3 separate regions of the Homo sapiens genome follow, and all the other regions are linked to region 3. Evidence: fine-mapped expression QTL. A gene starts in region 3. Each other region holds a variant in brackets. All regions are shown on one strand. Distances are between the middles of the regions.

Evidence for each region.
Region 1: its variant is fine-mapped to the expression of GIT2 in blood mononuclear cells (TOPMed, PIP above 0.99).
Region 2: its variant is fine-mapped to the expression of GIT2 in whole blood (TOPMed, PIP 0.99).

Annotation. Positions count from the first base shown.
Region 1 is chr12:109,889,093-109,897,271 of GRCh38, forward strand. It overlaps a transcript of TCHP not described here. Among named protein-coding and RNA genes, the nearest start is that of TCHP, 7.1 kb to the right of the region's middle. RefSeq lists a silencer at 2,726-2,785. The variant GC/G (reference allele first, on the strand shown) is at 3,565.
Region 2 is chr12:109,926,716-109,934,894 of GRCh38, forward strand. It overlaps GIT2 (GIT ArfGAP 2), which reads right to left. Exons shown (of 20, transcript NM_057169.5): 19 at 7,307-7,370; 20 at 3,089-6,475. The coding sequence ends at 6,263. Among named protein-coding and RNA genes, the nearest start is that of TCHP, 31 kb to the left of the region's middle. RefSeq lists enhancers at 1-216, 5,913-7,112. The variant T/C (reference allele first, on the strand shown) is at 3,108.
Region 3 is chr12:109,992,316-110,000,494 of GRCh38, forward strand. GIT2 (GIT ArfGAP 2) reads right to left here and starts at 4,053. Exons shown (of 20, transcript NM_057169.5): 1 at 3,858-4,053. The coding sequence starts at 3,909. ANKRD13A (ankyrin repeat domain 13A) reads left to right here and starts at 7,115. Exons shown (of 15, transcript NM_033121.2): 1 at 7,115-7,469. The coding sequence starts at 7,374. RefSeq lists enhancers at 3,324-3,373, 4,064-4,223, 6,839-7,028 and silencers at 3,704-3,793, 7,109-7,228, 7,239-7,328.

The sequences.
Region 1 (8,179 bases), 100 kb before region 3:
ATGAGGAGGGAGGATTGCTTGAGCTCAGGAGTTTGAAACCAGCCTGGGCAACATAGCAAGACCTCATCTCTACAAAATTAAAAGTAAAAGACGACTCTGGGCTGGGTGCGGTGGCTCATGCCTGTAATCCCAGCACTTTGGGAGGCCGAGGCAGGCAGATCACGAGGTCAGGAGATCGAGACCATCCTGGCTAACACGGTGAAACCCCGTCTCTACTAAAAATACAAAAAATTAGTCGGGCGTGGTGGCGGGCGCCTGTAGTCCCAGCTGCTCAGGAAGCTGAGGCAGGAGAATGGCATGAACCCAGGAGGCAGAGCTTGCAGTGAGCCTGCTGCACTGCACTCCAGCCTGGGTGACAGAGAGAGACTCCATCTCAAAAAAAAAGACGACTCTGGAAGAAAATCTATTCTTGCCTCTTCCAGCCTCTGGTGGCTCTAGGCATTCCTGTCTCACTCCAGCCTCTGCCTCCATCTTCATGTGAGCTTCTCCTGTGTGTGTGTAAATCTTCCCTCTGTTGTTTCATCTGTAAAGTTAGGACAGTAGCAATGCTAACTCCCTGTCAGGGCTGATGTGAGATTTCAATGGGTTAATGTAGATAGAGCAGTTTGCATGCTGGCAGGCAGGCAGCCCTCGATGAATGGTGTGGCTATTATGAATCGATTTACGGAGTTATTTCTACCCAGGACTGGCAATTGTGGGGATAATTGATTCCAGTGATGTCACCTCCCCAACTGCCAGGTTTTCAGCAGGACTAAATGTGCCAAATGGGCTTTGTTGAGCCAACTCCTCTGGGTGTTAAGAGCCACCATGCCAATTCTCCTTGCTGCTTCTTGGGGCCCGTCTGCCGCCTCTCCCTAATTAATGCGAAGGCGCACCCGCCAACAGGCCCACTTGCTGTCATCCCAGGAAACACCCAAGTGGGATACAGCCAAGTTTTGGACATTTTTTCAGTTACTGGATAAAAATAGTATTTTGATCATTTTAACAGCACAGAGAAGAGGGAGAATGCCACCTTGTCCTCCATCTACAGGGGCAGCCTCAGGGGCTGAGAGGGCCTGGCCTTTGTAGTCTCACATGGATAAACTGTTCTAAGGAAGCCTGACTGTGTCACAATCCTAAGACAGTGTCATAGCACACTACCATTATCATTAAATTGAAGAAACATGAAAATGAACCAACCTGTGCAACACAAAAGACCTCATCTCTACAAAAAAAAAAAAAAAAAAGTTAGCTGGGCATGGGGGCGCATGTGCCTGTGGTCCCAGCTACTCAGGAGGCTGAGGCTGGAGGATTGCTTAAGCCCAGGAGATAGAGGCTGCAGTGAGCCATGATTGTGCCACTGCACTGCAGCCTGGGTGAGAGAGCAAGACCCTGTCCCAAAAAGAAAGAGAGAGCAAGCCAACCTTTTTCTTTTTTCTATTTTTTTTTTTTTTTGGAGACAGGATCTCACTCTGTCACCCAGGCTGGAGTGCAGTGGCGTGACCTCGGCTCACTGCAACCTCTGCTTCCCAGGTTCGAGCGATTCTCCCACCTCAGCCTCCCGAGTAGCTGGGACTACAGGTGCATGCCACGACGCCCAGCTAATTTTTGTATTTTTAGTAGAGACCGGCTTTCACCACGTTGGCCAGGCTGGTGTTGAACTCCTGACCTCAGGTGATCCACCTGTCTCGGCCTCCTAACGTGCTGTGATTACAGGCACGAGCCACCGTGCTCAGCTGACCTTTTTCATTCCATTCAGTTCCGCAATCACTACTGGAACTTTTCTCTCAGACCAGGCTTTGCCAGGCAATGTGGGGTCAAAGATGGAGCTCTCTCAAGGAGCTCACAGACTGGTGGTGTTAATGGCAATGAATCATGTATGAATCTGAGCATTCAAAAATGAGGACAGGCATTAGCACACAGCCTCTGCCTGGCAGCTAACGAGTCCGGGTAATGGTTTTGAACCCCTAGGGTATTTGTTCCTTTCTTCTCTTATTAACTTCCCTGGGTGAAAATGTTTTGAATACGGAAAACAAAACAAATCACATTGGAATTTGTACCTCTATGGTAAACTACCTGTACAGTTTTGATTCCATGGGAACACTTAGGTTTAATTTTGAAGCAAAATCTAAAGACCAAAGTTCCTCACTGAATTAATTTTATAGTAAGCACAGTTTAAACATCCTTCTCTATAGGAAAATTGTAACTTTCGCTTATTTTTATTGGTACTTCTAATGCTGTGTAGTTGAGTGAGTAAATGTGCTATGGTCAGTTCTAACTAAAGGAGAAGATATAGTAATGGGCTTTCTTAATATTTCCTTTTTTTTTTTTTTTGAGACAGAGTCTCACTCACTCTGTCGCTCAGGCTGTAGTGCAGTGGTACAATCTCCCCACTCACAGCAACCTCCACCTCCCAGGTTCAAGCAATTCTCCTGCCTCAGCCTCCCAAGTAGCTGGGATTACAGGTGCGCAACACCATACCTGGCTAATTTTTTGGGTTTTTTTTTTTTAGTAGAGACTGGTTTCACCATGTTGGCCAGGATGGTCTTGAATTTCTGACCTCAAGTGATCCACCTGCCTTGGCTTCCCAAAGTGCTGGGTTTATAGGTGTAAGCCACTGTGCCCAGCCCCAATATTTGCTTTTTTTTTTGAGACGAAGTTTTGCTCTTGTCGCCCAGGCTGGCGTGCACTGGCGAGATCTTGGCTAGGCTCACTGAAAACTCTGCCTCTCAGGTTCAAATGATTCTCCTGCCTCAGCCTCCTGAGTAGCTGGGATTACAGGCATGCACAACCACGCTCTGCTAATTTCTGTATATTTAGTAGAGACGGGGTTTCACCATATTGGCCAAGCTGGTTACCAACTCCTGACCTCAGGTGATCCACCTGCCTCAGCAAGTAGAAACCTTGTCTCAAAGTTTCTACTCAAGGTTTCAGTAGAAACCTTGTCTCTACTGAAAATACAAAAATTAGCTGGGCGTGGTGGCGCATGCCTGTAGTCCCAGCTACCCAGGAGACTGAGGCATGAGAATTGCTTGAACCCAGGAGGTGGAGGTTGCAGTGACCTGAGATTGTGCCATTGCACTCCAGCCTGGACAACAGAGCAAGATACCATCTCAAAAAAAAATCATTTATTTAATGCTTCAATGAAAGCTATGGAAGAAAAATACAGTATGTCCTGACACCAAGTGACCTGGTCAGAGGGAATCAGGAGGGCTTCTCCAAGGAAGGGACATTTACACTGGGATCCTGAAGTCTGAGTAGGAGTTAGCAGAGGGGAAGGGTCTTCCAGACAGAGGGAACAGCATAGCAGGAAAGGTGGTGGTGAGAGATAAAGAAATGACCAGTGTGGCCAGTGATGTCAGCAGGGGACCAGACCAGGCTGGACACAGTGGTATGGGCTTCATGCCAAGGGAAATGGGGAGCCATGGAAGGTTCAAGGCTGAGAAGATGATGGAACTGCTCTGATGTGGTCTACCAGTCATCTTGAACTTTGGGACTTAGGAAGTAGAGGTTGTCTGTCATCCAGGAATGGCCAGTGGGTGCCTGTGGGCAGGAAAGTCACAGAAAACACAGGACTGACCTGAT[GC/G]CCCATTTTGGTGGACTGTGCCCCATACCTGACACCCCAGCAGAAGGGAATTGGTGCGGGATTTGGGATGGGAACCCTGATGCACTGTAAAGACCATCAGAGTGCTCTGCCCAACTACTCTAAGCCTCAGTGGGGTTACTCTAACTCATACTCCTAGAGACACTGTGAGGATGAAGGTGGTCACCCAGGAACAGGACAATCAAGGTTCAGTAACTGGTAAGCAGGTGTTGGCTGAGTCTCCTCCTCTTTGTGGCTTCAGTTTCTGCCTCTACACACGGAGTCTACCAGCTGCTTTCACTATCACGCTGGCTCTGCCACTTACCTCATTTAGGCACACACTCCCCATTTCTGAGCCCCCATTTCCTCCTCTATAAAGCAAGGGCTTTGGGTGGGGTGAGCTTCAGCAAGCTGGAACCTGTGGTCTTAAATTGTGAACATCAGGCCGGGCGCAGTGGCTCATGCCTGTAATCCCAGCACTTTGGAAGGCTGAGGTGGGTGGATCACCTGAGGTCAGGAGTTCAAGACCAGCCTTGCCAACATGGTGAAACATGGTCTCTACTAAAAATACAAAATTAACTGGGTGTGGTGGTGCATGCCTGTAATCCCAGCTACTCAGGAGACTGAGACAGGAGAATCGCTTGCACCTGGGAGGCAGAGGCTGCATTAAGCTGAGATCTGCACCATTGCACTCCAGCCTGGGCAACAAGAGTGAAACTCCTTCTCAAAAAAAAAAAAAAAAAATTGTGAGCATCAGATCCAGCAGGGCATCTTGTCACCAAGGATTGCTCTTGGGCCCAGTCCCCAGAGAGAACTCTAGCTCTGGGGAGGAAGTTGGATGTTTATCATGTGTCTTTCACAGGATACTTCTTTATGCTGGTGGCTTGCCTAATGCCAAAGTGTCCCATGACCCATGACCAGGTGTCCTTCTCCCAGGAAACATGTTGAGATCGGCTGATGCCCTTGTGGCTCTTGTTTCACCTATATCCAGTTTATTCCAAACAAGACAGCCACTCTCTAGGAGAGCCTGACCGGGAGGGGTGAGCATTGAGTTCAGGTGTGTTGGTCGAGTGAAACACAGAGGGAGCAACTCAACAAAAATAGCAGAAGCAGTTTATTACTCACAGATCCAGAGAGCAGCGAGCAGGGTTTGCATAGCCAATGGAAATGGGAAGCTATTTGGGACATGTGTGCTTAACCAATGGGGACAGAGAGAGAGAGAAATATGGGCTAAAGACTTTATTGGAGGCCAGGCACGGTGGCTCATGCCTGTAATTCCAGGACTTTGGGAGGTTGAGGCACGTGGATTACTTGAGGTCAGAAGTTCAAGACCAGCCTGGCCACTATGGTGAAATGCCATCTCTACTAAAAATACAAACATTAGCCAGGCATGGTGGCAGGTGCCTATAATCTCAGCTACTCAGGGAGGCTGAAGCAGGAGAATCGCTTGAACCCACGAGGTGGAGGTTGCAGTGAGCCAAGATTACACCACTGTACTCTAGCCTGGGCAACAGAGTGAGACTCAGTCTTAAAAAAAAAAAAAAATGTAATCTCAGCACTTTGGGAGGCCGAGGCGGGCGGATCACGAGATCAGGAGTTCAAGACCATCCTGGTTAACACGGTGAAACCCTATCTCTACTAAAAAATACAAAAAAATTAGCCGGGCGTGGTGGTGGGCACCTGTAATCCCAGCTACTGAGGAGGCTGAGGCAGGAGAATGGTGTGAACCCGGGAAGCCGAGCTTGCAGTGAGCCACCAAGATTGTGCCACTGCACTCCAGCCTGGGCAACAGAGCAAGACTCCGTCTCAAAAAAAAAAAAGAAAAAAAAGGCCGGGTGCAGTGGCTCATGGCTGTAATCCCAGCACTTTGGGAGGCCGAGGTGGGCAGATCACCTGAGGTCAGAAGTTCAATACCAGCCTGACCAACATGGAGAAACCCCATCTCTACTAAAAATACAAAATTAGTTGGGCGTAGTGGCGCATGTATGTAATCCCAGGTATTTGGGAGGCTGAGGCAGGAGAATCGCTTAAACCCAGGAGGCGGAGGTTGCAGTGAGCCAAGATCGCGCCATTGCACTCCAGCCTGGGCAACAAGAGCGAAACTCTGTCCCAAAAAAAAAAAAAAAAAAAAAAAGACTTTGTTGGAGTCCAGGGCATTCCCCTAGCAGGTTTCCCTCAGGGAGTTCTACTTGTTGGGTTTAGAGCTAGTGGGCATGTGTTCCAGGAGGTCACACTGTGACTAGGACTGGTCACTGCAGCATGACTGTGCCATCCAGGCAGGGGGTGGGGTCGGGGGGTGAGTCGAGTAGTTTGTCTTCAGCTGTCCCATAGGGAGGGGGTCAGCAGTTGCATAAGACAGATACCTGGGTTGACCACCTTGAGGAACTGGGAGGAGGTGGAGAATGGACTATGTCAAGGGTTGACTGAGACCTGCTTTTTATATGAGAAAGTCTAAAATATTCAAAATGGTTGCCCAGGCAACATAAAATTACAGGAATTCACTACAGTTCCCCAGCTGAAGTAATGGTATGGTTCAAGGTTCAAGAATTACTTTTTTTTTTTTTTTTTTTTCAGAGACAGTGTCTCATTCTCTCACCCTGGCTGCAGTGCAGTGGCTCAATGATGGCTCACTGCAACCTCGACTTCCCAGGCTCAGGCAATCCTCCCACTTCCACGTCCCAGGTAGCTGGGACCACAGGTGTGCACCATCACACCCGATTAATAAAAAAAAAAATTTGGGTGGAGATGGGGTGGGGGGTCTCTCTATATTGCCAGGCTGGTCTTAAATGCCTGGGTTCAAGCGATCCTCCTCGGCCTCCCAAACAAAGTGTTGGGATTACAGGTGTGAATGACCTCACCTGACCCCATTGTTATTTTTTTAAAACACAAAGCTGGGGCTCTGAGAAGCAGCCTAGTAGCCCCAGGGTCTTTGAGCCCACCTGTCTACTTCTGCGGTCTTGTCTTCAGGTGGGGTGGGGTGTGAAGCAAGAAGCTGGAGTGGTTGGTGTTGAAATGTCATACCTTCACAACGGTACCTGCTAATTAAATGATGGCATTGTGCGGCTTCCAGTACTGTCATGTTTCATCTAATGGAGAGCGGCTCCCATAGTGTCACCCCCTCTCCCTGTTCTTGTTTTCTTCTCCCATGCTAGGATACCTAAAATCACAAGTCCTGGAGCAGCTCCAACCTGCGGGTTCCTACCAGGGCTTTCCCTCTCAGCCCCCTGCACGCCGTAGTCATTGACCTGTCATTGAATATTTCATATTGCCAAATTCTTTGTATGTTCACATTTGCAGGCCTCTTTTTTTTGAGATGGAGTCTCACTCTGTTGCCCAGGTTGGAGTGCAGTGGCATGATTTCGGCTCACTGCAACCTCTACCTCCCAGGTTCAAGTGATTCTCTTGCTTCAGTCTCCTGAGTAGCTGGGACTACAGGCACGCACTACCACACCTGGCTAATTTTTGTATTTTTGGTGGAGATGGGGTTTCACCATGTTGCCCAGGCTGGTCTCGAACTCCTGACCTCAAGTGATCCATCCGCCTTGGCCTCCCAGAGTGCTGGCATTACAGGCGTGAGCCACTGTGCCCGGCCGCAGGCCTCTTTTAAGAGCTACACTTGCAAGCCACAAGCTCCCAGAAAAACACACTGAAGAGGGATTCACAGTCTCAGAGGTTTGTTGTAAATCCTGGCTTTTATAGTCTTTGCTGTGTGACCTCAAGAGAGTTGATTCACCTCTCTGAGCCTCAGCGCCCTCATCTGCAAAATGGGGGCAGGAACAAACTCCTCCCAGGTTGGAGGGAGGCTTAAATGAGATAATATATCTCAAAGCACCTGGCACATAGCAGGTGTTCAAGAAATGCTCGTTCCTTTTCTTCTTTTTGCTTTCTCTTAACACCATAGATTCCTTTTTCCTTTGGAGGAGAAGAAAGTACTCAAAATAGGGGATCCATTCACTTTTTCATTCTCAACACAAATATTGATTGAGGCCGGGCATGGTGGTTCATGCCTGTAATCCCAGCGCTTTGGGAGGTTGATGCCTGAGGTCAGGAGTTCAAGACCAGCCTGGGCAACATGGCAAAACCCCAACTCTACTGAAAAAAAATACAAAAATTAGCCGGACGTGGTGGCGGGCACCTGTAATCCCAGCTACTTAAGAGGCTGAGGCAAGAGAATTGCTTGAACCTGGGAGGCAGAGGCTGCAGTGAGCCAAGTTCGCACCACTGCACTCCATCAGCCTGGGTGATAGAGTGAGACTCTGTCTCAAATATATATATAGATAGATATAGATATATAGATAGATAGATAGAGTGCTTACCACATACAAGGCATGGCATGGGGAATGCAGCAAGGAACACGATGATCCCTGCTCTTGTGTTGCAGCAAGAGGGCTTAGGCACTGGGATCAGGCAGAACTGGTTTCAAATCATGGCTCAACCACCTATCAGCTGCGGCTCCTCAGGCAAGCCATGCCACCTTTTCGAGGCTTAGTTTAGGCAATTCTAACATGGGGGCAATAAGATATCTCATAGAATGCCCAAGAGGAGCAAAGGAAAAGGCACTTGTAAAGTTGCTTAATAGCGACAGCCAGCAGCTGTGTAATCAAGAGGTTCAGAGTT
Region 2 (8,179 bases), 66 kb before region 3:
CCTGGGGCCATGAATGGCAGCAGGAGGCAGACAGTCCTGGGTGGGAGTGGGCAGGGTCCCCAGTAAGGCCTCACCTACAGGCCAGGGGGGGCCTGAAGGCTGGGGGCCAGGCTGCCAGTCCTGCAGACCTGAGTGGGGACTTGTGGTACCTCTTACGGGCCTGCCCATGGCCACCCATGGACCAGTCGGCAGGCACTTCCTCCCCCTGTGGTCCATAAAAGCCCTGGGCTCAGCCAGAGCAGACCAGAGGATGGAGAGGGCGGAGAGATGATGACGGGACAACCAGCTGCAGAGAGGAGTGCTCTCTCTGATGACAGCTGCAGATGATGGGACGACTCCTCTACTACTGCAGAGAGGAGTAGTACCCTTTCCCCTGAGAGCTGCAGAGACAACCTGCTGGCAGAGAGGAGCTACCCTCTCTACTGAGAGCTTCAGAGACCTGCAGAGACGTCCGAATGACTTGCCTGTGGAGAGGAGCCACCCTCTCCAGGGCCTCCTCTCTGCTGACAGCTGAACACTTGACGGGACGACCTGCCTACAGAGAGGAGCTGTTCTAACACTAAATAAAAATCTTTGGCCAGGCATGGTGGCTCACGCCTGTAATCCCAGCACTTTGGGAGGCTGAGGTGGGTAGATCACGAGGTCAGGAGATCGAGACCAGCCTGACCAACATGGTGAAACCCCGTCTCTACTAAAAACACAAAAATTAGCTGGGCATGGTGGCACGTGCCTGTAATCCCAGCTACTCAGGAGGCTGAGGCAGGAGAATCGCTTGAACCCAGGAGGTGGAGGTTGCAGTGAGCCGAGATTGCACCGCTGCACTCCAGCCTGGGCAACAGAGCAAGACTCTGTCTAAAAAAAAAAAAAAAAAAAGAAAAAAAAAGTCTTCACCCTCCACTTGTCTGCGTACCTCATTCTTCCAGGATGCAGGACAACAAGAACTCAGGCAAAGGCACTGGCCAGATATTTCCAGCCAGAAAAATCGACACCCCAGAGATCCTGTAACATTGTGACTCCGCCGGAGGCTGGGAAGCGCACCCTGGTGGTGAAGAGGAGTAAGGAGCATGACAGCAACTGACACACTCTCTCCTTGGATGTGAGGCTCGGCCTCCTGGGCTGTAAACATCCTTATCTGAAAAATGGGAAGAAACCACTCACTTCATCTGGCTGTAGTGAGGATGAAATGAATGAACATGTGTCAAGAACTCAGCACAGGCCAGGCGTGGTGGCTCACGCCTGTAATCCTAGCACTTTGGGAGGCCGAGGCAGACAGATCATGAAGTCAGGAGTTGGAGACCAGCCTGGCCAACATAGTGAAACCCCGTCTCTACTAAAAAAAATACAAAAAAATTAGCTGGGCATGGTGGCACGCACCTGTAGTTCCAGCTACTCGGGAGACTGAGGCAGGAGAATTGCTTGAACCCGGGAGGTAGAGGTTGTGGTGAGCTGAGATCACGCTGCTACGGTCCAGCCTGTCTCAAAAAAGAAAAAAAAAAAGAACTCAGCACAGTGCCTGGCACAGAGGAAATGTCAGCTAAAATTATAATGATGACTTCACATGACTCTCCTACACTAAAACATGTTTAAAAGCAGAAGCCAAGGAGCTGTGTGGTGGGAAAGGCCTGGAAACGGTCTACAGCAGAGCTTCGCAGAGTGTGGTCCCTGGAACCTGTTAGAAGTGCCTACTCCTGGGCCCCACCCCAGAGCTGCTGAACCAGACTGTGGGGGCCCGGCATGGTGAGCCTGCCAGGGTTCCAGGAGGTCTGCTGCTGGCTCTTTTGAGCCTCCTTGCCTGAGGAGGTTGCTCTGGGTGTGAGCTGTGTGAGACACTGGTCCTAAGCCTGCACAGACGTCCCCCTGAACAAGCAGGATCACAGCGAGGACGTGGCATCTTTCTGACTTCTCACTTGGAAAAGTACCCGTGGTGCTCAGGCCCTACCCCACCCTTCTTCCATTTGGGAGTAGAGTCCCAAGTCACCTAACCAGAGGACAATCACTGGTGACCATGGGCAGCCCTGATGAACCCCCATGCAAATCTATACCAGCTCCCCCTAGGAACCTGCACAGGTGGCCTTTCTCTGAAAATAAAATAAGACCAGTGGTTTTAAGACACTGAGCTCATTCCAGGACCCCATCACCTGTTAGGAAGAAGGGAGGGCATCTGTGCTGGGCTGGCTTTCGCTGCATTAAAAAAATTAAACGTAGGGGCCAGGCACAGTGGCTCACGTCTGTAATCCCAGCAGTTTGGGAGGCCGAGGCGGGTGGATCACTTGAGGCCAGGAGTTCGCACCAGCCTGGGTAACATGGTGAAACCCCATATCTAAAAATACAAAAAATTAGCCAGGGGTGGTGGTGCATGCCTGTAATCCCAGCTACTTGGGAGGCTGAGGCACGAGAATCGCTTGAACCCAGGAGATGGAGGTTGCAGTGAGCTGAGATCACACCACTGCACTCCAGCCTGGGTGACAGAGTGAGATCCTCTCTCCAAAAGAAAAAAACATTAAACTTAGGGAATAAATATATTATGATAAGATGCATGGAACTAGTATCTTGATGCAGCGTTCAAAGAAAGCTATTTGCTCTGGGTGCCGTGGCTCACACCTGTAATCCCAGCACTTTGGGAGGCCGATGCGGGCAGATCACCTCAGGTTGGGAGTTCAAGACCAGCCTGAGCAACATGGTGAAACCCTGTCTCTACTAAAAATACAAAATTAACCGGGTGGGGTGGTGCATGCCTGTAATCCCAGCTACTTCTGAGGCTGAGGTAGGAGAATCACTTGAACCCGGGAGGCGGAGGTTGCGGTGAGCCGAGATCACGTCGAGCCGAGATCGCGTCATTGCACTCCAGCCCGGGCAACAAGAGTGAAACTCCATCTCAAAAAAAACAAAAAAACAAAACAAAACAAAACCTATTTGCTAAGCACAGAGGAAGAAAAAGATAGTCATTACTGTAAAACTGCAGAGCCCCAAAGCATATGAAACACTGCATCTCACTAATGATGGCGTTTTGGGAGAACTTCCTCAGACCTTTTACAGAGTATCTGGAAACATCAACTAATTGATGGGGAGCACAGCATTACCACAAAAACACTTGTAGAGCCTGTTTA[T/C]TGCATAACTAGCAGGCACAAATTCCAAAACGATTTTACAACACTTAAAGGGCACAATAATTACAGGAATAGAATGTACAATAAAAAGTACAGAATAATGAGTGACAGGGATCAAACACGTTGGAATAAAAGGCATCTCAGTTTTCCTATGCAGCATTTTCTTTTCTAGGAACACGTTACCTTCAACCAGGACAAGGAAAGAAAGAAAACTATACTATTGGAAAGCTCATGGGTGCCATTGAGGACAAAAACAGGCGAGTTTTGCTCTTGGTTCTGCAACTGAATCACTTGAGAAGCCGTGCACAGCTCCCGAGTTGTGCGTTTAGAATTCTGATTACATGAAATGCTGTGTTTGATCTTTGGGCCCAATTCACTGTTCTTTGGCAAATAAGAACTATTTGCATTCCAAGGCAGATGACGATTTCTGTGAAAGGAGCTTAGAGGTACAGCTGTTTCCTTCTGTTCAGTCAAGTGCCAGTTTCATAAAGTGCACCTCTGCCCTATCAGCTTTGGGGGAAGGGTGGCATATGGGGAGGAAGGGATCATTGAGAATACAGGGTGAAAAAGAACGACGTTACTGAAGGTAGACATTGCTAGTGCAAGGTACGGAATCCATGTGCAAAAGGTGGCTGGAACAAATGTTCAGATAAGGTGCGATTTGCCAACAGGAGCAGAGAACTCTGACACCAGATCTCAGATGAGGCCAAGGAAATGCGCGGGGCACATACAGAGAGGACGACCTGCAGCCCTCCAATGGCCACGTCATTCCACCGGGGAACTTGTTTGGAGTTTTGGCACCGTGGGCTAACCGAGCACTCTTCTGACATATTCTTACAACTGGAAATGCTTTGTTGGTCCCCATGTTCCTTGACTTTCTCTAGGGCCATAAAGGCAACATCTTCTATTGCAGGTCCTCAAACATTCCAAGGAAAACACTGCTTCACCTCCTGCAGACAGCTCATTTCCCAGAAGCCTCTACAGAAGCCCGTCCTCCCTGGGACAGCAGGGGCAGGGGTTTGCAAGATAAAGGAGGGTCAGCTAAGGACATGAAGCCTGCAGAAAAGGCTATCAGATGGCGCCTGAACTTAAGGTGGGAGGCCCCCTTCTAGAAGGCATCCCGGGAGCATCCAACAGCAATGTGGCACTTAGGGCTGTGGGACAAACAAGTGGAAGAGTCTTTTGGAGACGTGGACCCTTTTCCCATGCTACTCACAGTGAAGCAAAATGCGACAAAAGCATCCACACACGGTGACTTAGTAAAGCAAGCACCGTCGGGGTGCTACTTTCATGACAGCATATGGTCAAGCTATAAAGGTGTGCATCGATCAGTCCTGTGAAAATAGAAGCTTAGTTATTAGCATGTATTGAGGCAACTTGTACTTTGATTCTTGTGTCTTCTTCACATGTGTGAATGACTGCTATGGGACAGAACATATGGTTAAAAACAGGAGCGACAGCAACATAACACACAGGGTTGGCCGGCTCCATTACGGGTAAGACTCAGAGGCTGCTCCAGGTGTGTCCGGGGAAGCCAGGCCCTCACACTGCACAGCTTACAGGGCCCTGGGGTGGGGGCTGTGAGCTGGCAGCCTAGAGGACACAGCTCACCTGCACATGGTCTCTGAAAGTGTTCAAATTGGTTGCCAACATTTATAAATGGAGAGATGGCACCAAAAAACATCTAGGTTTCTTGTCTCTTGAAAAATCAAAGCTGTGGCCACCCTAGGCCCACTTTTCCACATGGCAACAGGCGTGGAGCTGGGGGCTACTGCCCCTACTGTGTAGGCGGTGGGCTCCCCATAGTCTCCTCTGCCCTGCTGCCGTGTACCTGGCTCCCTTCACTCATCCACATCACCGGCCCTAGGCCAGGGTCTGAACCACACACACAGAATGGCTGCAGTAAGCAGGAACGGGAAGAGCTTTCACATTCAGAACAAGAAGGGGCTTTTGAGTAACTAAAAAACAATCTGAGCATGTTCCAGCACTTCAACCTTACTCTTTCAGAGCTTTGGGGTAGCAGGCAGCCAGCTAGAGCACACTCTCTAAGGAACTCTTGAAAGTTGATGTCTAATTTTTAAGTACTCATGAGGTGATGGAGGAGAAACTAACTCAGATGACTGCGATACGATACATCTTTCCTTATAAGAAGTCCTTAAAGATGATGAAAAATGTGAAGCAACTCATGTGAGAAAGCTGTAAGTGGTCAGAGAAGCAAGCTGACTTTTGGATGAAGGGTACAACACAGTGTCAGGGAGTAGGTGATTTCTTTTCCCTATAGTTCATGGTAGTGATACCTAAATGGGTGGCACAAAATGAGTTCTGGCTTGTTAGACTGATGCTTCTCTTTGCTGCAGGTTTTGAACAAACTGTCTGGCTTACAGGGGTGAGGGAGAGCACCTGACAATGGGTGGTGATGTGCGTGGAGCTCCTACCCTGAACATGGCTTCATGAGATGTCCTGTGGTGGGTCAATGCTTTATCTCATTCCATGGAGCCTTCAAGATGACAAGAAAACATCAAGAGATAGGAGCTTGAGATAACAACATTAAATAACAGAACATGTAACAGGGTAAAACACTGAGAAGAAATGAACCAATTCATTGTTTCCTCCCAAGAGAGACTGTGACACTAGTTTTAAAAAGCGGCAAAGTCCTTTCTCTACATACATGCTTGGAGATACCCCAAACTTAGAGATTATGAAGTAGGCCAGGAAATTCACTTATTGCACGATGCTTGGCAGGGAACAAATGACGCTGATTTTTTCTTTTTTAACTGAACTCTCTCAAGAAAATGTTTTATGAAAAATTTCATTTATAGTTTCAGCCATAGGCAGGGAGTTTTAAGGGATGGAAAAGTTTTCACAAACTTTAGACAATGAAACTATACTTTTGGATGTATGTGATCAACTCAACAGTTGTTGACAACACAACCGAACATCAGAAACTAAACCAGCAAATAGGCACAAAATAAGGCAAGTGGGTTAAATAGTTGAAAATTGGTTAGAAAACATGCAAAAATAATACTGAGTTTTCTTTTAAAAAGTTTTAAACCGTCATTAAATGTTTCTTTTTGTAGAAATCTGAAGAGTTCTGCGTCTGAATTTGAAATTGGACTTTATAAAGCCTAGAAAACAGAGGAGGCGGTGCCCTGCCCTTGTCAGTTGTTGTTCTCTTTGGTGGTGATGGTAACCAGCTGCTTGGCAGCCTTGGCGATGTCGTACGCACACTGGATGACCTGCTGCGTGACCAGCTGAACGTCTGTGGGTGAGCCGGGGTCCCCTGGGAGGGTCTTCTTGCACTCTGACTGCAGTCGGTAGGCACTGGACGTCAGTAAACGAAGGGAAGTCCTCACCATATCAGACTTGGGTTTCTAAAAGGAAAAAGACAGCCGTTTACCCTGAACTGCAGGGCAGACATCCAAAAGCAGGGGACAAACATTCTTCTAAAGCAAACCAAGCTGCTCCCCAGAGTGAAAGGCGGTTTGGTCCTGCCCTTTCTCAAAGGGGTGCTTCACACACTCCAAGCTTTGCAGCCCACAGCGTAAGAGATGCTGAAATATTCTGATTCAAAGGTCAAAGTGCATGCAGGGTAATTTTAGTAGTATGTGGTATTTTGAAGTAGTTTTTGAAAAATATTAATCCATGTGGGTAAAATATTCCAGAAAATCCTATAAATTTTAAAATGTGCCTTTTAGCACGACTTGTATATCCTTGTCTTATTAAATCAACATTCATGCAGAACAAAAATATTTCAAAGCTCTATACGACTGCATATTTTATTTTATTTTACTTTTTTTTGAGACTTGAGTTTCACTCTTGTTGCCCAGGCTGGAGCGCAATGGCACGATCTTGACTCACTGCAACCTCCGCCTCCTGGGTTCAAGCGATTCTCCTGCTTCAGCCTCCTGAGTAGCTGGGATTACAGGCATGCACCACCACGCCTGACTAATTTTGTATTTTTAGTAGAGACAGGGTCTCTCCATGTTGGTCAGGCTGGCCTCGAACTCCCGACCTCAGGTGATCTGCCTGTCTCGGCCTCCCAAAGTGCTGGGGTTACAGGCGTGAGCCACCACACCCGGCCTCGACTGCATATTTTAAAACTGCATGTGCTACAAAAAAGCTAATGTAATATATAGGTCATAAAGAAATTTCTTGCTGTTCATTTAAAAGGATTTAAACCAAGTGAGTAGGAAGTGACTTACTTTGGGGAATAATGCTGCCATTTCTGTAACAGCTACGTGTATCCTCTCTGAGCAGGGAATATAACTGCAAGAATATTGAAGAAGTTATTCAATGACAGTAAAAATGATTCGGAGGCAAAGAGGACTCAAGTGCTAGAACAGATTCTGTTTACATTCCCTTCATGAAGGGGCTAGGGCTGCAGTCAGCCGTGCATCCCACACCACCAGAGGGCACATGGTTATAAAGCAGGACTCTCATTGCTTCCTAAAAGTTCAATCTGATGAAAAGTCTCCAGGTATGAAATATGGCAACATACACTCTTGGTCAGGTGAGGCCACACAACAGTACAGAAACATAATTCACCCCTCCTCACGTCAGTCATTTACTTCTCATGTGTTTCATCGTCCCAATTTCTAGAAAGAGAAAGGATTTCCATGCAAAAGGCCACAGAAGTGAAAAATAAAGGACTGAAAAAATTCCTTAAAATTAGAATTGGAGTCTCTCAAGTAGCTGGAACTTCAGGCATGCACCGCCATGCCTGGCTGATTTTTAAATATTTTTTTGTAGAGGAGTCCCACTATGTCGCCCAGCCTTGTGTTGAACTCCTGGATTCAAGTGAATCTCTTGCCTCAGCCTCCAAAGTGCTGGGGTTACAGGTGTGAGCCACGGTGTCCAGCCCTTTCCCCATTTTTTAAACCATGAAGTTGGCTTCTGAATAGATTGTCATAAGCAACTTATGCACTTCACCTTTGTAACAAGTCTAGTTTCAAAACTATTATAATTAAAACTGTCGGCCGGGCGCAGTGGCTCACGCCTGTAATCCCAGCACTTTGGGAGGCCAAAGCGGGCGGATCACCTGAGGTCAGGAGTTTGAGACCAGCCTGAACGACATG
Region 3 (8,179 bases):
TTTGTATTTTTAGCTGAGACGGGGATTCATCATGTTGGTCAGGTTGGTCTCAAACTCCTGACCTCAGGTGATCCGCCCACCTCGGCCTCCCAAAGTGCTGAGATTACAGGCGTGAGCCACTGTGCCCGGCCAAGATAATATAATTTTGACAGTGAATTATGCAGATAGCATTTTCTGCAGTAAATGTTGTAGACTGCTGTCCTAATTCACTGCTATGAATCAACATGTCAATATGCTTAGCAGAAAGCTGCGAGTTACAGAATCATAAAATCACTCAGCTGCTATGGTTCTGAGGACAGGGAAACCTGGCCTCTTCCATTAGGAAATGTTCTATGATGTCCATGAATTGGTTTGTTTGTCTGTTTGTTTGTTTTGAGACAGAGTCTCACTCTGTCCCCTAGGATGGAGTGCAGTGGCGCAATCTCGGCTCACTGCAACTTCTGCCTCCAGGGTTCAAGCGATTCTCCTGCCTCAGCCTCCCGAGTAGCTGGAATTACATGTGTGTGCCACCAGCTCGGCTAATTTTTGTTATTTTTAGTACAGACGAGGTTTCACCATGTTGGCCAGACTGGTCTCAAACTCCTGACCTCAGGTGATCCACTCACCTCGACCTCCTAAAGTGCTGGGATTACAGGCTTGAGCCACTGTGCCCAGCCAATTAATTGTTTTACATAAACTACCAAGTCCAATCCTGCAACTGATCTGAAAAAAAAAAAAGAAGTTGCAATAACAGCAGCTTCACAGAGGCAAAGATGTAAAATAAAAATGAATAATATTTTTAGTGTGTGTATAATACTTTTTTCCCTTTAAAGTCATAGAGCTTCATTAGCTGTCCTTTGAAACAAGGAATAATTTCATACTTGGCAAGCAGGATGGATCTGGGTAAGTAAACTGAATACCTAGAAACCTCAAATAAAGAAAGAGCTATACTTCGTCAGACTCACAATGGGGTGACAATAGGTGCCACTTAAGCTGCCTGGTCAAAGGGTTACATTTAAAAATTCTTCAATGTCCACAAAAATCTCTAAAATGCATGTACACCATCTTTACCATTTTTTAAGAGTTTATTCAAACCCTTTCAAACCATATAATGAAAAGTTATGGGCTTTCAATCAAAGACGAATCCTGGGAGCCAGTGAGTATGGTGGTTAAGAGGGTTGGCTCTAGAGACAAGGAGTTCAGGGTTTGAACCCCAACTCTGCCACTTCTTGCACAATGATCTCAGACAAGTTACTTGAGTGTTTTCACCATGGTTCAAATGAGAACAATGACAAATCTCGGGATAGTAAGGATATAGAGAATAAGTGAAGTACCTCACACATAGTAAAGTAGTAATGTTAGTTGTTATATCTTTTCTAAATTATTTTCTCAGTATTCAGATATTTTCTAGACGTGAAATTCATGATCACTGGACAAAGTTTTTGATGGGAAATACTTAAAACATTGAACATTTCATGTGACCACTCTACTACTGTACTGAAAATCTCCATGGAGTTTTCAAGTAATTGAACTCAGAGTGTGATGTATTTGAAATGAACCAGATTCATTAAAAAAAAAAAAGTAGAATATTTAAGAAGATGTGATCATGGTTAAATGTTTGCATAAAATAAAACAGAATCAAAATAATTCAATTTAGTATAACTCTGTCGCTATTACTGTATCATCCTAAAAAGCAGAGATTGGAAATGTCCAGATGAAGGAGCTCTACAAAGATGCATTAACAACACTGCTTCCTGCAGTATAGTACTGACACTAATGGCAAAAAAAAAAAAAAAAAAAAAAGACTGTTTTGAAGCATAGCTTTGGTTTTCACTTATTCAGAGGATTTGCAGTATTCTTTTTTTAGCAAGTATTTAACACATATTAATTAAGACAAGTATTCGACTAACCACTTTAGCATCCTGGATCAGAATCCCATGGAAAGAATATTAGAATGTTAACATAGTAAAATAAAAATGTTTGTATGAATGAGATTGGGTAAAACCCTTTAAGTTCATCTGGAGCCAGGGCTCCAGGGACACCACAAATGAACTTCAAAAATGTTTGTGACTCCCCCAGACAAATCTTAGGTAAATTCGTTCACGTGCATTTTAGGGGAGAAGGCCTTAGCATTCAACAGAATCTCAAAGGGGTCCCTAACCCTACAGGTAATTCTCTCAGTAGGGCTGTGCAGAAAAGGCAGCACAAATTCCCAGCTGCTCAATTTCACAGAATATTTCAAGGTAGCCTAATTATATTCAAAACAGGAAGGAAGTGACTCAAGTCTCTGCAGATTAGGCGTATGAGACAACAACTAAAGCGATACAATGGAAGAGAAAATGTTCTGAAATGCACAAAATGCTGCAAAAGTATATTTAGGATGGCAATGGAGGAACAATTTTGCTTTGCCCTGTACCCTATCAAGAAGCAAAACAATATGCATTCCAAGAGGAAGTTAGAAGCTAGACACATGTGAATCAAATACATCACGGTAAGTTCAACTGAAAATAGGCAAGAAAATAAGGAAGTGGAACAAATAACATTTTTAGAGAAAATGATGGAGTTTGTATAACTCACACTAACTTGGTTTAGAAAACACTTCTTTTTAAACTCCTCCATACCCCCTCCCTATCTTCAAAGGAAACTGGTAACACCTGCACTGTACGGGCCATAAAACAACCACATGAGGTTTGAGTTATCACAGTTCTATTTACAATTGGTCTCCACTTCCAAATGACAAGCTTAAGATCAGAACAGTTGCAAAGCCAGTGGTGTTCAATGATTTAATTAAGATTGTTTATCGGACACTATTGTGCCAAGAAAGCCATGTTACCTTCGAATTAACTCAAAGCCAATACATCCAAGCACCTAAAACAGCATGTAATAATCTATCCAGAGACCTGACAATTCAGTTGCAATTGCTAAGACACACTTGATCTCTAAATGTGAATATTATGTATGAACAGTTATGCATCATTATGAAGGAATGGCTTTAGCGTTTCAATGCCCCTATATTGCTGGTGATTTTGCGTTTGTTTCCGTTGTAATCAACGTATGATTTAGATAGTCAAATATAGCTTTAAGGGACTACAAGAGTTCTACTGTAGACAGCATAATGCAAAAAAGAAAAGCCTTAGATGATATGATTCTACGAGTATTCATTGAATCTTCCTCACCACTAAGCGTGATACTCCCGATTATCCTCATTGAAAAAAATGAGGAAATCAAGCAAGTGACCAAGTGAAGTCACCAGCCCAAGGTCAGCCAGAAGCAAAATCTAGTTTGAACCCAGGCCGTTCAGATCCTCAAACTTGAGACAAGCACTGCCTCCTAAGTGCTGGTTGTGTTTGGAAGACCCCGATCTCCTGGCAATTCTCCCGGGCAGAGTAGCTGTCGGATGTCAGCAGCGGGGAAGTCATCTACGGGGACCCTCTGGCGAGTCTCAGGGAGTGTCATCCTCCCCGGGCAGGACACCCAGGCGGAGAAAGGGTCTAGTGGGAGGTGACACCTGCAGCCTCTGGAGGCTGCAGCCGGGAGGACGCTCACATTTTACTTCTGTAATTGGCTTTCCTGTGGATTGCCCAAGCCCCTTCCTGTTGGGGGAGCAGCCCTGGCCCCCGTCACCTCCCCAGTTGGCCTAGGACGGAGGGAACGGGAGGGAACGAGAGGGAAGGGAGGGCCGCGAGGGACGGGGAGGGCGGCGGCCCCCTGCCCGCCCGGCTCTGACAGGCCCGGGACGGTTCCCACCCCAAGGCCGCCCAGGGACCTCTTCGTTGCGACCCTAGCCGCGGGATGCAGCCTGACCTGAGGGGGCGGCCCCGGGGTAGGGGTCCGGGCCAGGAAAGCAGAGGGGAGCGGGCCCGGCCGGTGCGACTCACCCGGCCCGCTGCAGTCAGCGCACACCTCGCTGCTCCGGAGCCGTTTCGACATGGCTCCCACCTCCCACCTGCGGGGAACTAGAGGCCGGGGGACAGCAAAGGCGGCGGTGGCGGCGGCGCTTCCGCTCTAACGGGTCCCAGCTGCGGCGGCGCTGACGGCGGCGCCTCTCCCCTCAGCGCCTTGCAGCCTTGGCACAGCACGCACGCGCGGGGAGGTGCCCTTCGGCGAGTGTCAGGTCATGTGACCGGAAAGGGCACTCTGCCTTGTCGCCATCTTGAGTGAGGGCAGGAGACTGCCCGAGTATCATCTGTCCTACCTTTAAATATTGAATTTGGGTCTTCTTCTCTGGCAGAGATTCCCCTCGTCCCAACTGATTAATACCAGGGGAAGTAGCAATATCTTGTGATGAGAACCCTGCAGCCACAACCTTCCTGAGGCAATCAATGGTCAAGTTCATTCATTCATTCCTTGATTCAACAAATGTTTATCAAGCACTTACCATGCTTTATATACTGTCCCAGCCACTGGAGAAACAGCAGTGAGCAAAGACTGAATTTCTAGTCCTTATGAAGCTTGCATTTTACTGGGGTAAAGTAAAATAAGAATATATTATATGATTCCAGGCTGGGCGTGGTGGCTCACTCTTGTAATCTCAACTCTTTGGAAGGCTGAGGCAGGAGGATCACTTGAGGCAGGAGTTCGAGACCAGCCTGGGCAACATGGTGAAACCCCATCTCTACTAAAAATACAAAAATTGGCCGGGCGCGGTGGCTCACGCCTGTAATCCCAGCACTTTGGGAGGCCGAGGCGGGTGGATCACGAGGTCAGGAGTTCAAGACCAGCCTGGCCAACATGGTGAAACCCCGTCTCTACTAAAAATACAAAAATTAGCCGGGCACAGTGGCAGGAGCCTGTAATCTCAGTTACTTGGGAGGCTGAGGCAGGAGCTTGAACCCAGGGGGTGGAGGTTGCAGTGAGCTGAGATCACGCCATTGCACTCCAGCATGGGCGACAGAGTGAGACTCCGTCTCAAAAAAAAAAAAAAAAAAAAAAAAATTAGCCGGGCGTGGTGGCGCATGCCTGTAATCCTAGATACTCAGGAGGCTGAGGCATGAGAATCGCTTGAGCCTGGGAGGTGGACGTTGCAGTGAGCAGAGATCGCGTCACTGCACTCCAGCCTGGGGGACAGAGCGAGACTGTCTCAAAAACAACTTCAACAACAACAACAAAAATAACAAAAAAGAATATATTAGATGATTCCTTAGGCTTCAGTTTTAATCTCATGTTCAAAATTAAGATAATGCATTGTTTACTTCTAGTCCACGATTTGTTTTTGTATGGCTTGCTACTTAAGAATGATTTTTACATTTTTAAAGGGTTGCGAGATGAAAATGAAGAAGAGAGAGAGGGAAATAAAGAAAAAGAGGAAGAAGAATATGCGACAAAACTTGTATGTGACCAGCAAAGTTAAACATTCATTTTGGCTAAGGACAGATGGAATAAATTATGGGAAAAATGTGATACACCTGCTGGATAGTAACCCCTCAGTAAATAGTAGCTCCCATAATTATGGATATTGCTATTATTTTCTAATTACTGTTTTTCTTCATATGCGTGGAATTTGAGAATAACAATAGCTAACATGGGATAATTTACAAAATGGTGTGAGATAAACACAATGAAATGAGGTAAATCAGTGTGAAGGAGAAAGGAGATGTGACCCTAATACCAATGACTACTTATTGTCTGTCTTACATATAAACACAGCTATGATCTCCATTCAGCAAATATTGAATGCCTGTTGTTAGCCAGGTACTATTTTGGTTTTAGATACTCTGGTAAGCAAAACGATGTGGTTCCTGTCATTATGGGGTTTTCTGATTAATGAGATAGGGAGATTTTCAATAAACACGGCATGATGAAGAAGAAGGAGAACGTTAAGTTGCAAAAGGCATCTGAAAGAATGAGAAGTGCTGGAAAAGGCCTCAGAAGCACTGGTCTTGAGTCCATCTCTACAGTGTGATAAATGTGTGATGGAGAAATAATCACAGAATTCCCACGCATTCCATGGTTAGAGTCTCCGGGTGCCATCCTGGTGCTCCTGCATCCTGTTTTGGTTTAACAACTCACAAATCTTCTGGGCTCCACATCTGTGGAGAATGGATTAGGTTGGGATTCTTGAACAGCTGTTGTTGCAGGCATCTGAAGAGCTGGATGTGCATACACTCAGAGGGCAGAGGGAATGTTTTCACAATGCATTAAATAGCTTCATCCAGCTATGTGGTCTAGTTGTAGACAGCTGAGCTGAAGCAGCAGCAGAAAGTTCAAGCCCATGAGTAGCTAGCTGTAAGTTGATTTGGTTCTTCATTGAGTCAAGGAGGCATAGTGCCTGAAACTCAAAGAATAAACTTCATATTCGCAGACTGTGGTCAAATATGTATATTATTTATCAGTCCTTTCAGCCATAACCTCAAATCCAAAAAGCTAGCTTAAAAATGACATTCATACATGGACTAAATCACCACCATAGTTAGCTATTGAATCATAACCCGGTTCGGAGTTCAAATAGAAGCGGTTCTCAACTGAGGACGATTTTTCTCCCCGAGACGACATTTGGCAATATCTGGAGAGACATGTTTTGGGGAGTGCTACTGGCATTGAGTGGGGAGAAAGACCAGGGCAACTGCTCAGCATCCTACAAGGACCGGACAACCCCCACACAAAAACTGCCCAGTTCAATATGTGCCGAGGTTGAGAAATCATGAAGTAGAAATATCCCCTTTTATGCAAATACTGTATTTGAAGCCACTTCGCCAGGGTTTAGCGTTCCTCCTTCAAAAATTGTCCGGTGTTGCCCACTTCCAAAATGGCTTTTGACCCGTCGTGGAAGCATCTGTCCTGCTCCAAAAAGGCTGCAAGGGTGTCGGCAGCTGGAATGGTTTGGTCCGGGGCTCAGTTGTCACCCCCTGACTTCAGAGCCAATGGAAGAGGCCCAGTTGTGGACCGAACCACATGGGGCTACTGGAGCAGGGGGAAAGAAGCTGGGGACAGGTAGACGGAACTTTCCGCGTGGAGATCTTTGGCCAAGAGAATGAGCCTCAGCTCTGTTCTGTGGGCTGCACTGAGTTTCTCGGTGTGAGCTGGAGGTGGGTGCAATGGCGCGGACCCCGGACCCGGTGCCCAAGGTCGCCTATCCCCGCCGCGGCATGCGGTGGTTCGCTCTCCGCACTTCCCTGTTTGGGGCAGTTAGGTCCGCAGAAGTCTGTCCGCGAGCTGTCAGCGCGGGCGGGAACGCCGCGGGGCGCGGGGTGGGCGCGGCCGACCTGGTCCCTGAGCCGGCCGGCGACCCCGGACCTCCCGCGCGCCCCGCACCCGACCGGCTCAGCCGGCCGGCAGCGTAACACGCCCTACGCTCGCTTGCTCGCCGGCCTCAGGGCAGGCAGGCGGGCGCGGGAGACCCCGCCGGGGCCGAGACTTGGGGCGGGCGACGAGGACCAGGTTACGGCCTCCTCGCCATGTCCTCGGCCTGCGACGCGGGCGACCACTACCCCCTGCACCTCCTAGTCTGGAAAAACGACTACCGGCAGCTCGAGAAGGAGCTGCAGGGCCAGGTGAGGGGCGGGGCGGGGGTCCGTCTCCCGGTGGGGACTTCGGGGAATCGGGGGTCGTTTCGCCTCCCTGAGCCCATTTCCAGCCCTCTGTCCCCGGGATCCCCAGACCCCTTCCACTTTGCAGGTGTGGGACAGTCCTAATAATAGGACACGTATCGAGTGCTTACCGTGCGACGGGCTTTTTAAATATCTTCTCTCTTCACCTTTCCAATAACGCTGGTGGGTAGGTACTGTTACTTTTCCACTGGACAGAGAAGGAAACAGGTCCTCAGACGCTACGTGCCTTGTGCGAGGCCGCCCCGCTGATAAATGCCAAGTCGGGATTTTAACTCGGGCCGGCTGGCTCCGGAATGCACCGTCTTAACCATTTTTAGGTTCTGCTGCCTCAAAGACGTAAGAATAGCACACTCTCCTTGTTGTAAGGAAGGGCTTGGTTGGTTTTGGAGTCCAGGTTCTAACTCGCCCTGTGACCTTGGGCAAGGCATTTTCCCTCTCTGGCCGACGTTAACTTAGCTGTAGAATGAGGATGTTGGTGCTGGGGCAGAACCCAACACTTGACTCTATTGATAGGTCTGGGGTGAGGTCCAGGTGCCGCATTTTTAACAAACTCCCCAGGGAGGCTGATACCTAGCAAAGTTTGAGAATCACGGGTTCTCAGGCTCCTTAAAATCCCTTCCTGTTCTAAAGTGCTTTGATGCTTTAATCTTTTC